3 linked regions of the Homo sapiens genome follow. The protein of the gene in region 2 purifies or fractionates together with the protein of the main gene of each other region. This does not show direct contact. Each region holds a gene or a part of one and is shown on either strand. Other genes may lie near its edges.

Evidence for each region.
Region 1: the proteins of INTU (region 2) and VPS4A purify together in Homo sapiens (affinity purification with mass spectrometry; one large-scale study listed by BioGRID and IntAct). This does not show direct contact.
Region 3: the proteins of INTU (region 2) and SMC4 purify together in Homo sapiens (affinity purification with mass spectrometry; one large-scale study listed by BioGRID and IntAct). This does not show direct contact.

Annotation. Positions count from the first base shown.
Region 1 is NC_000016.10:69,324,324-69,327,603, forward strand, and holds the end of VPS4A (vacuolar protein sorting-associated protein 4A), read left to right. Parts: 3' UTR 1-2,616; downstream 2,617-3,280. UniProt on the Homo sapiens protein: Involved in late steps of the endosomal multivesicular bodies (MVB) pathway. Recognizes membrane-associated ESCRT-III assemblies and catalyzes their disassembly, possibly in combination with membrane fission.
Region 2 is NC_000004.12:127,639,457-127,643,191, reverse strand, and holds part of INTU (protein inturned), read right to left. Parts: intron 1-3,735. UniProt on the Homo sapiens protein: Plays a key role in ciliogenesis and embryonic development.
Region 3 is NC_000003.12:160,413,150-160,416,649, reverse strand, and holds part of SMC4 (structural maintenance of chromosomes protein 4), read right to left. Parts: intron 3,178-3,500; coding exon 3,037-3,177; intron 2,284-3,036; coding exon 2,133-2,283; intron 400-2,132; coding exon 235-399; intron 1-234. UniProt on the Homo sapiens protein: Central component of the condensin complex, a complex required for conversion of interphase chromatin into mitotic-like condense chromosomes.

The sequences.
Region 1 (3,280 bases), on a different chromosome or scaffold from region 2:
GGGCAATGGTGAAGGTGGGAGGTTGATTGGGGCAAATCCAGGCACTCCCCATGTCAACAGCCAGACAGGGCTCCAGGGCTTGTCCCAGTCAATACAGAGTTCCCTCTGCTGTCTGGCCGTCTGCCAGGGAGCCAGAAGGAAGGGCCTTGCAGCCACAGAGACACTCCACTGCCCTGGGGCACACAGTGGACACTGCTCTTCCTACTTCCTCCTCTCCTGGATGCTCATCAGCTCCTTCTGCCTCCCCCCCTTTTTTTTCCATCTTTTGTTCCCCTAAATTAATGCTGCTTGGATTTTCATCTTATTTATAAAGATAAAATCACCTGGAAGTGTCAAGGAGTGGGGCGGGGTGGCGGGGGAGAAGCAGCCGTGCTGCCAGGTCACCCAGACCTCCAGACAGCCGGCTAGCCCCACTGCCCGTTCCTTTTACGCCCAAGTTTTGCTCCTTGAGAGCAGATTGGCTGATGCCCCTGCAACCCCAGCCCAAGCTCTGCCTCAAAGACCGAGTGACATAAGCCATTCCCACCCTCCTAGGTTCACATCCAGGGCTGTGTCTTCCTTGGGGGAGGAGATGGTGTCGTTTAGATCAGGGTAAGGCAGTCAGGCGGGTGTTCACCACTGCCTTTTCTTCCTCTGAGCGTGAGAACACTGAACCCAGCCACTGCCCCTGGGTCCCTGTCCTGGAAATGGTCTAATAAATCCTTTTCCCTTCTTGAGCTACCCAAGTGATCTCATCTTTCCTTGACTCTTAACTGAGACTCTGAAGGGCCACCCTTGCTTCCAATTAAAAGACCCTCTGGTTTTCTGTCTCCTCTCTTTTCTAAAGCAGAGCAGGAAACAGAACACTGCAGTTCTTAGGCCTGTTCTCCAGTCAGGTGTGCAAGGCCTCCTCCCCTTAAGGCCTCAGAAGTTTGGCTGGGGATGTTTGTGGGATCCAGACAGTTCTTGCCGTTGTTCGGCCTACAGATCAGAGACTGCAAAGTGGGAGCCCTGCGTACCAGACCCGTCCTGCAGCTGTGTTTGTTTGGTTTGGTCTGCCGCTAACATTTAAAAGTCGAGAGTTGCTGGGCGCGGTGGCTCACGCCTGTAATCCCAGCACTTTGGGCCGCTAACATTTAAAAGTCGAGAGTTGCTGGGCGCGGTGGCTCACGCCTGTAATCCCAGCACTTTGGGAGGCCGACGCGGGCGGATCACAAGGTCAGGAAATCGAGAACATCCTGGCTAACACAGTGAAACCCCGTCTCACTAAAAATAAAAAAATTAGCCGGGCGTGGTGGTGGGCGCCTGCAGTCCCAGCTACTTGGGAGGCTGAGGCAGGAGAATGGCGTGAACCCGGGGGACGGAGCTTGCAGTGAGCCGAGATCGCGCCACTGCACTCCAGCCTGGGCGACAGAGCAAGACTCTGTCTCAAAAAAAAAAAAAAAGTCGAGAGTTGACATAAAAATTCAGAATTCTGACTTCTAGAAGATTAAATTAGGTAATGTTGGGCCTGCGTCCTCATGGGGCAGCCTGTCAGCGGCCACTAAGTAGAGGCTGCTCTGTACAGAAGGGGTCCCCCATCCCCACTCATCTGTGTTGCCTGCCCAGATAGCCCCATGGCCATTTCAGTTTGCGACCCCCAACAGACCAAGGACCCAGAGCTGGCAGCCCTGGACCCACGTCCGGCAGGCAGTGAAGCTGCAGAGGCTGTCCCACGTTTACCCCATGCATATAAACAGACCAAAGTCAAAGCACATTCACACAGAAAGACCTGGCCTAGTAAATGAAGCTTATAGCCTGCAAAGGGCTTTGTTCCAACCTTCCCTCTCCAAAACCCAGTACTGCTCCTCTACCTTTCAAACCTGGTTGGGCCAGAACTGATTACATGGCCAACTCTTGGCTCACACTGGGCTTGCACTGGGCCATTTCTTTGCTCTGGTTCAGAGCCTCTGCAGAAGTGAGCTAACTTTGGATCAGTAGCTCCAACACTTGGCTCCAGTGCTGGCAGGTTACCCCTCAACCATAGCAGCTGGGATCTTTGTGGCTTGGGGGTGCTTGTGTAAGTTCTTGGTTATGTGCCCTCAGCCACCAGGATATGAACCGTGTCTGCAGAGCTTCACTTTAGTGAGCTTACAAGTTTTTAAATTTTTACTTCTAGTTACATTTACTTGAATCAGAACGTTGTTTCCTCATTCCTACTGCTTAAACACCTTGACAAGTCCTAGGGGTTAACAAAGGTTAGCATGGCTATGGTCCATCCCTGTGCTCTAGTTAGAGCGTGAAGACACCTGACTTTCCAGTTGTCTCTCTCCATGACCAGCAACAGGAACCACTGACGCTGAACTTTGGACAGTGGCCTCAGACTCTGGCTGCCAGCACACAACCTGCCATCATCGATGTTAAACATGCTGACATGTGCAGAGGAGTTTCCTCCCTGAAATGCTCTGAAATTCACTTCTCTGCCTGGGGATTCTGTTATAAACCTTCTGCCTACATTGGCTTTCACTGTGGAAGTTGATTTCTAAAACTCTGATGAGCTCACAACGTTGACATGTATATGCGTTTTTTGTGAGTGCTTCCTGCTCAAAGTGGGAGAGATTTTACTGGAAATGCAATAAAGTTTGCATTTTATTGCTACCGATGCCCACCACAAAAGCGTTAACCTCAGAAAGCTATAAGAAGCATCAAAAGATTGCCATAGCCCCCTGTAAGAGCTTCTGAACATTGTCCAAATGAAAGGAGGCTCAGCTGAATTCTAATTTTCCTAAAGACCCATGTTTTTAGCATCTATGAGCTTTCTACAAATCTCCCCATTGGCTGCATCTCTGACCTTGCACCAGTATCTGGTTGGGATTCCCTTTTTTTTTTTTTTTTTTTTTTTTTGAGACAGAGCCTTGGTCTGTCGCCCAGGCTGGAGTACAGTGGCGAGATCTCAGCCCACTGCAACCTCTGCCTCCCAGGTTTGAGCGATTCTCCCGCCTCAGCCTCCCAAGTAGCTGTGATTACAGGCGCCTACCAGCACACCCAGCTAATTTTCATATTTTTAGTAGAAACAGTGTTTCGCCATGTTGGCCAGGCTGGTCTTGAACTCCTGACCTCAGGTGATCTGCCTGCCTTGACCTCCCAAAGTGCTGGGATTACAGGCATGAGCCACCAAGCCTGGCCGGGATTCCTTTTCAAAGTCTGGCTGCACCTAGAGCCAGTTTGCTTCTGCTTGGCCTCATGGGGCCTCAGAGAAAGCCACAAAGGAGGATGGGTCTTTCCTGGGTTCATTTAACTGCCATTTATAACACTTTTTCCT
Region 2 (3,735 bases):
TGGTTACTGCTCACTTTAAACAATTTCACTGAATGATAATTTGCATTAGCAGTTGATTATGCAATTATATCCACACAAGCATGCCATTTGGAAATTGTACATGAAAATCTATTATTTGCATAGAAATTATTTAGGATGGCTGTCAGGTTAAAATGAAAGCTAAAGCCAGCTTTAACAGACTTTTACATAAGTTTTCAAAAAAGAAACATTCACTTCACCATGAACTAAAATCTGTCCTGAAAACAACCCATTTATAATCACAGTTAATATAGTAATGATCACTTTACTGTCTATAATTTCCATAAAACTCCTTTTTATGAAAAATTGTAGTAGAAAAAAAAAAGCACATATTACATAATTCATCGTGATTATAAAAAATATTTTTAACTGGGAAGTATGCCACTGAAAAAAAAAACAAAATTACTGCTATTAAAATGATTGAAATAGCATTAAGGAGCAAAAATACTCATGGTAACAAACCTAAACTCTACCCTGTTCAATGTTATGAACAGTTTACCTTTCAAACTGCTATTCTTTAAAGTGAAACTAGTAATAGTGGAAAAATTAACATGTAGAGAGTCTTTTCAGAAACATGAGCTGTAATATCCCGGCCTGAAAGAGTATAATTTGTGTTGTAATCATTAAATCAGATAGAAGACATTTCTGTTTTCTGCAGTGTTTATTAGCAACTCCAGTTCTCTTAACTTAAAAGTCAAATGTCTCTTTCTAAACACTTTGAAAATTAGCCCCCAAAATATACTATTCTATTACTCAACTCAAACTAACCACTGCCCTGGTCTGTGGCTGGTCATTAATACAGAATTTTCAGCTACATATGAGTCATTTTTAAAAATGCCTAACAAGCTGAAAATATCAAAACTAACATTTCTTTGGGACTTGTTGGTTCCCAGTGTGTGGCATCATCATAGGCACTAAGCCTCACTTATTGCAGATTATCAACCAAATATCACTTATTTCAACAATACCTATCTGTACCCACAGAATCAATATTTAAATAACTATGCAGTTCTACTCTTGAGAGTCTAAATAACTATATCCCCACCATAATCATTTAGTAACAAAGCTACCTTAATTTTAATTGCTACAGTGTAAATACCATGATTGCACATTAATTACTTAAAAACATATGTATCAATTTAAAAAATATATATATATATCAATTTAAACAATGAATAAAGTGTATCAGCCTTATTATCTCACCCTTTTAACCTGGTAAGTTATTTGTATTAGAGATATATAAAAGAAACATCTTTTCCACTTACTAAATATGAAGATGATTCATTTCAATCTCTAAAGTTTGAATGTGAAATCACTTTTGGTTATGATTCAAAGATCCATGCACGTGGTGGCCAAGGGGATAGCATCTTGGCATTCAATTGTGGAGCAACTAAACAGTGCCAGGAACTATGGTAAGTACCAGAATTATAATGACGAGAATGTCAGTTCCCGCCCTTGCTTAGTAAAGAAGAGAAAGTGAGAAAGAATTCATGACAGTACACAGGGTAAGTACAAGATAGAGGCATACAGGAGAGTCACCCAGCTTAGCCATACAGGAAAGTCACCCAGCTTAGCCATACGGGAGAGTCACCCAGCTTAGCCTAGCTGGAGGTTGAGGGGAGATCAGGGAGACCCCAGAAACCAGTTTGAAAGGATAAATGAAGGAGGGAGAGAGGTGGGGAGCTGAAGGGAAAGATGTGAAGAGGATTTCAAACAGGAGTAACAGCATAAGCAAAGACCTGAGGATAGTCCCCATGGCCTAGACGGACAACCACTGGCAGTCTGCAGTTGTCAGAGTAAATGCGGAAGGTGGGGAATGACAGAAGTGGTCAAGCCCTAGTTTTGCCAGGCTTTTTAGATCACCCTAAGGGGTTTGGCTTTTGTAGTGCAGGTAAGAAGGCATCAACAAAGAGTTTTAAGTAGAGAGTTTACGTGTTAGATATCCCTGGATAGGTCTACTTTGGCAAGTAAATCGTTGGTGGATTTGAGGTGGACAAGACTCAAGGCAGGAGGGCTAGTCAGGGGGCTGTTTCAGTAGCTGAAGCAAAAATGACAAATAAAGCAATAGTAGAAGACATGGAAAGTAGGAAAAATATGTGAGAAACTCTTGAAAATCACCAGAACTTTGAGACTGATTAGGTGGGGAGAGAGAGAGAGAGAGGGATTCATGTTGACTAGATTTCTAGCTGGTGACTATACTTTCATGCATCCTTTTGTGAGTACCCATGTGCAGACTCATTGTAATACATGGGAACACAATCTTAATACTTCTCTTACTACCTCTCTCTCACATGAACACTGTTAAAAAATCCATGCTTTATAATCATATAAAAACACATATAGGGTTATTCTGTCACTGTTTTGAAAAAGTGGAATCATTATATATGTACCTATATAAAGTACATATATAATTTCTCACTTAACAATACAGCTTAGAAATCACTAGTGGCTGCATAATATTCAATATCAAGGATGTAGGACATTTGGTCATTCACCTACTGATAAGCTTTGTGTTCAGTTCTTGTTTTTCCACCACAAAGTTATAGGAACCATCAATATACACATGTGTGTTTATGTATATGTATATATATATATATATATATATATATATATATATATATATATATATATGTATCTTTACCCAAAAGACTATACCAATTTATATTTTCACTAGCGATGTGTGGGATCCACTCTCTTAATGTCTAGATTTCTAAATATACATCATTTTAAGAAGAGAAAGACACTTTTTAAAAAGAGGAAGAAACTAAAAGGAAGATAAAGAGGTAGAGACAGGGAAGTGTAAATAAGAGACCCCCACACAGAAGGGCAACTTATACTGAAAAGCAAATGAACTGAGAAATCATGAAGAGCTGAGTTCAAATTTTGTTCTATTATGATTTTAACCTTTCTAAGATTGACTGATTGCTTTAGTTTTCCTCTTCTTGAAAATAGATTATAGCTACCTCACAGGACTCTTGTCAATAGAAAATACAATAATGTTGTTCCTGACATGGTTAAGTTCCAAATAAATATCAGTTCCCTTCCTCTTGCTTTTACTAGATATAACTCTTGTGTTTCTGTATTTTTCTAACTGGCATTAAATGAAGGTGTCTCTAATGATCTCAGTTTGCCAGGTTTCAGGGTAGGTGATAGTGACACAAGAAGCAAAGCGAGGCACTGCCTTTAAGGACCCTACAGGTCAATATTCCTGGAAGGTTCTTTATTTCTACTCCAGAGGAATAGTTCCGAGTTAAGTAAGCATCAAGAGATTGGTCGACGGGTACAAAGTTACAGTTAGATAGGAGAAATAAATTCTGGTGTTCTATTACACAGTAGGGAGACTATAGTTAACAATATTATAGTGTATATTTCAAAATTACTAGAACAGAGGATTTTTGAATGTTCTCATCACAAAGAAATGATAAACATATGAGGTGATAAATAGGCCAAATGCCCTGATTTAATCACTATACAATGTATATGTCTATTGAAACATCACATTATACTCCACAAATATGTGTAATTATTATGTGTCAATTTTTTAAAAAGAGGATAAATGATTAGTGTATTAAGAAATTTTAATAGAATTCTAATGACTGTTGTCCCAAACTAGTTCTTCTAGCCCTATTAGAAGAAAGGGGATGTGTTAACAACAACAACAACAAAAAACCCACAAAAACCTAACCTTTCACTACAACTTCCCTAAATTAAAGAAAT
Region 3 (3,500 bases), on a different chromosome or scaffold from region 2:
TGACATCACACCTTCTGCTACTACTACAAACTCTCATTTAGTAAACTTTTTAAAAAACATGTCAGCAGGAATTAAAAGAATAGTCATCTAAGTCTAGGTTGACTAGTTTTAGGAATGTTGGACATTAAAAGTCCAAACTTACCAGTTCAGGTTTCAGTATTTTTGAAAAAATAATCTTTAAGTTAAAAAAAAAAAAGCCACCAAAATAAACACTGATAAAAAAAAAAAACTTACTTCTTTTTCTTTCTGAAGCCCTTGTGTTTCCTGTTTAAGGCTATCCATAACTTCCTTTAATTTTTTTTCTTCTTTCTCTTTTTCCTTCTCGAGGGCATTGTTTCTGGTTGTTGTTTCATTAATGATATTGTTACTCTTGGCAGGTATACTTTTAAATTCTTCAACCTGAGATTATAAAACAAGTTATAGGAGCATACATCTTTATGTTACCCAATACTATCAATATTTGACATATTTAAAGGCATTTCTCAGGGTCCTCTAGTTCTTCTTTTCTTTATAATCAGAGTTAAATTAGCTAGCTTTAACAAGTATTTTCCCGACTATTCACTGTAATTTCTATATTCTCTCAATCTAATAGTAAAACTACTTCTACAAACACCTGACCTCTTATGAAGGAAAACTGTCTCTGGCAGGGCCTCAGGTCTGTCATCCTTCTCTCCTGATTTCAGGTTGTAATTATTCTTCTTTAGCTATAAATATGCTCTGACTACACGGAATTTTCTAAACTATCCTTCCTGGTATATCATAACTTACCACAAATTATCTTTACCATCTCCCCAACCCTAAAATCTTTCACAACTTTACTCTTCCAGAGTCATCATGTAGGGCTAATATTTTACTCCATTAACATCTTCTGATAATAATCACTTATCCATGCAGTCTATGCCTAAAGGCTAATCACTCTGTAACAGTTACACTTAGCTAAGTCTGTCAAGTCTTTGGGGTTACCCCCAAAGCCTTGTTATTTTGTTTACTCTGATTATCTAGTACCTGTGAAGTTCAACATTTCCCAAAATGCCACTTCCTTAAACACTGACTCAACGTATTTATCAGCTGTGCTAAGCAGAAAGTATTTTGTGAACAAATACATTTAGAAAATGCTTATAGCGTAAAGTAGAGCCTAATCTATAATTATTGTGTAACCATATGGAACAAAGCTTTTTTTTTGCGGGGCTGGGGTTAAGGTATCATATCTGTTTAAATATGACAGAGCTATGAACATGAACACAGCTTAAGAGATTCCAAATTATGAGCTTTCCTATCTCTCTTTAAGACACAGAGTCTCACTTTGTCACCCAGGCTGGATGCAGTGGCTTGATCACTATTCACTGGAATCTTGAACTCAAGGCATCCTGCCGCCTCACTCTCCTGACTAGCTAGGACTTTTAGGCAAGTTCCACTGAGCCTGGCTAATTTTGGATTTTCTGTAGAGATGGGATCTTACTATGTTGCCCAGGCTGGTCTTAAACTCCTGGCATCAAGCAATTCTCCAACTTTGGCCGCCCAAAGCACTGGGAATACAGGTGTAAGCCATTGTGCCTGGCCAACATTGGTAATTCTTGGGAAATCCTGCTCTGATCCTGTTAGCTTAGTTTTTGTAGAAGACAGGCAATATTTTTAAGTCTGTAATACCTAACTTAAATATCTTTAAAAACTACTACTTTAGGAAAAAGAAAATTAAAATTAACACCAAAATGGAACTCCTGATTTGGTAAATGTTTTCCCAATAACATATTATTGTAATATAAACTTTAAAACTCAAAGTCAAGCTAGGAGCAATGGCTCACACCTGTAGTCCACGTTACTTTGGGAGGCTGAGGTAGGTTTCTTAAGCCCAGGAGTTCAAGACTATAATCATACCACTGCACGCTAGCCTGGACAACAGACTGAGACCCCATCTCTGCAAAATTCCAAAACCAAACAAAAAACCTCCTGCAAAATAAAGTCAGTAGAAGCAAGGTTTCCCTTGAGGGGGTAAAATCATGTTCAGAGACAAACCTTAAAACAACATTTAGAATACTAATTCATTCTCTTAGGCAATAAGGGGCAAACACATCCATGAAAACTAGGTATGATATTCAGACGTGAAATTTTAAGAATTTTTTTCTAACACCTACCTTTTCTTTATCTTTTTGAAGTTGTTTCTCCAGTTTTTTGGCTTTACTCGTGGCATGTTTTAACTTTTCTCTAACTTGAACATCTTCCAAATCTAGCTGTGTAAATTTTTCTTTATTCTCCTCAATAAATTTTGTAATTTTATTCAGTTTCCTAGCAAAGCAAGTATATTGTAAGTCATTATTTTGAATGTGCACATATTTTAAAACCACATTTCCTACCTGGAACACTTCCTCTATAAATATGTCCAGGCTCTTAATAAGGCAGGATCCTAAAACTCTCCTTATTCCAAGATGATCCCTCTCCCCATAGTTGAAGAAGCACCTGTATTTTTGATTATGACAGCTATTTTGCCTTTCTAAGTTGGAGGGAAAATAACACATTTTCCAGTGACTACAATGTCTAGGTATATAAAAATTTTACCATAGGAGTAAAATTTTGGTTTTACCTTTTACGAATATACTTACAAGTTACTATACAATAAACTTACTATACAAATTTTTTTATTTAAAAATAATTAGAGATACTAGTGTCATTGAAAAATGGCATCAAGTAGGGACATGATAAAACCCTTAAAAATCTATCTAGAAAAACCCAAATCCTATCCCTCTATCAGATTTGTGGACTACTAAAAGATTAAACTGTGAAGCCAAATGCTTATTGTTTGTTACTGTGCTACGCCACTAGGGGGTAGCATCCCCACGGTTCTAAGACTTCAGAGTAGGGAATTTCATCTGTAACAAGGAACTGGATGCAAGGCAAGTTTTTTTTTTTCACTAAGGGGGCCACCACTTGATATGCTGGCAAATGTCTTACACTCACAATGTGCTAGAAGTAACTTTATATATAAATACACATGTAATACAATTATCTAAATACTTTTAGTACTTCCCAAAATATTATTACTTTTCTGTATCTTTTACATCTTTATTCTTAGCTTTCATTTCATTTGATAGTATATTGCTCTTCTCATTAATTTCTTTGGTATCTTCATGAATTTTTTCCTTTTGAGTTTCCATTTCAGCAATTCGTTTCTGCAACTCATAACTATAGGGAGGAAAAAAAAAAAAAGAAATTGAAGCTCCTAAAATGCCATTTCCAAAACTGTATAACAATTTTAGTAAAACTAACTGTTTCTAAAATATTATTAACTAGTCAATATATGACTGCCTAGGCTATGAGGGGAAAATCCCCCTGGGTCAAGGCTAGAATTTAGGAACAAAAATCGATTTCATTGTACCAATGTGGTGGCCGACGCCTGTAATCCCAGCACTTTAGGAGGCTGAGGCAGGCAGACTGCCTGAACTCAGAAGTTTGAGACCAGCTTGGGCAACATGGCGAAACCCCATCTCTACCAAAAAAAGAAAAAA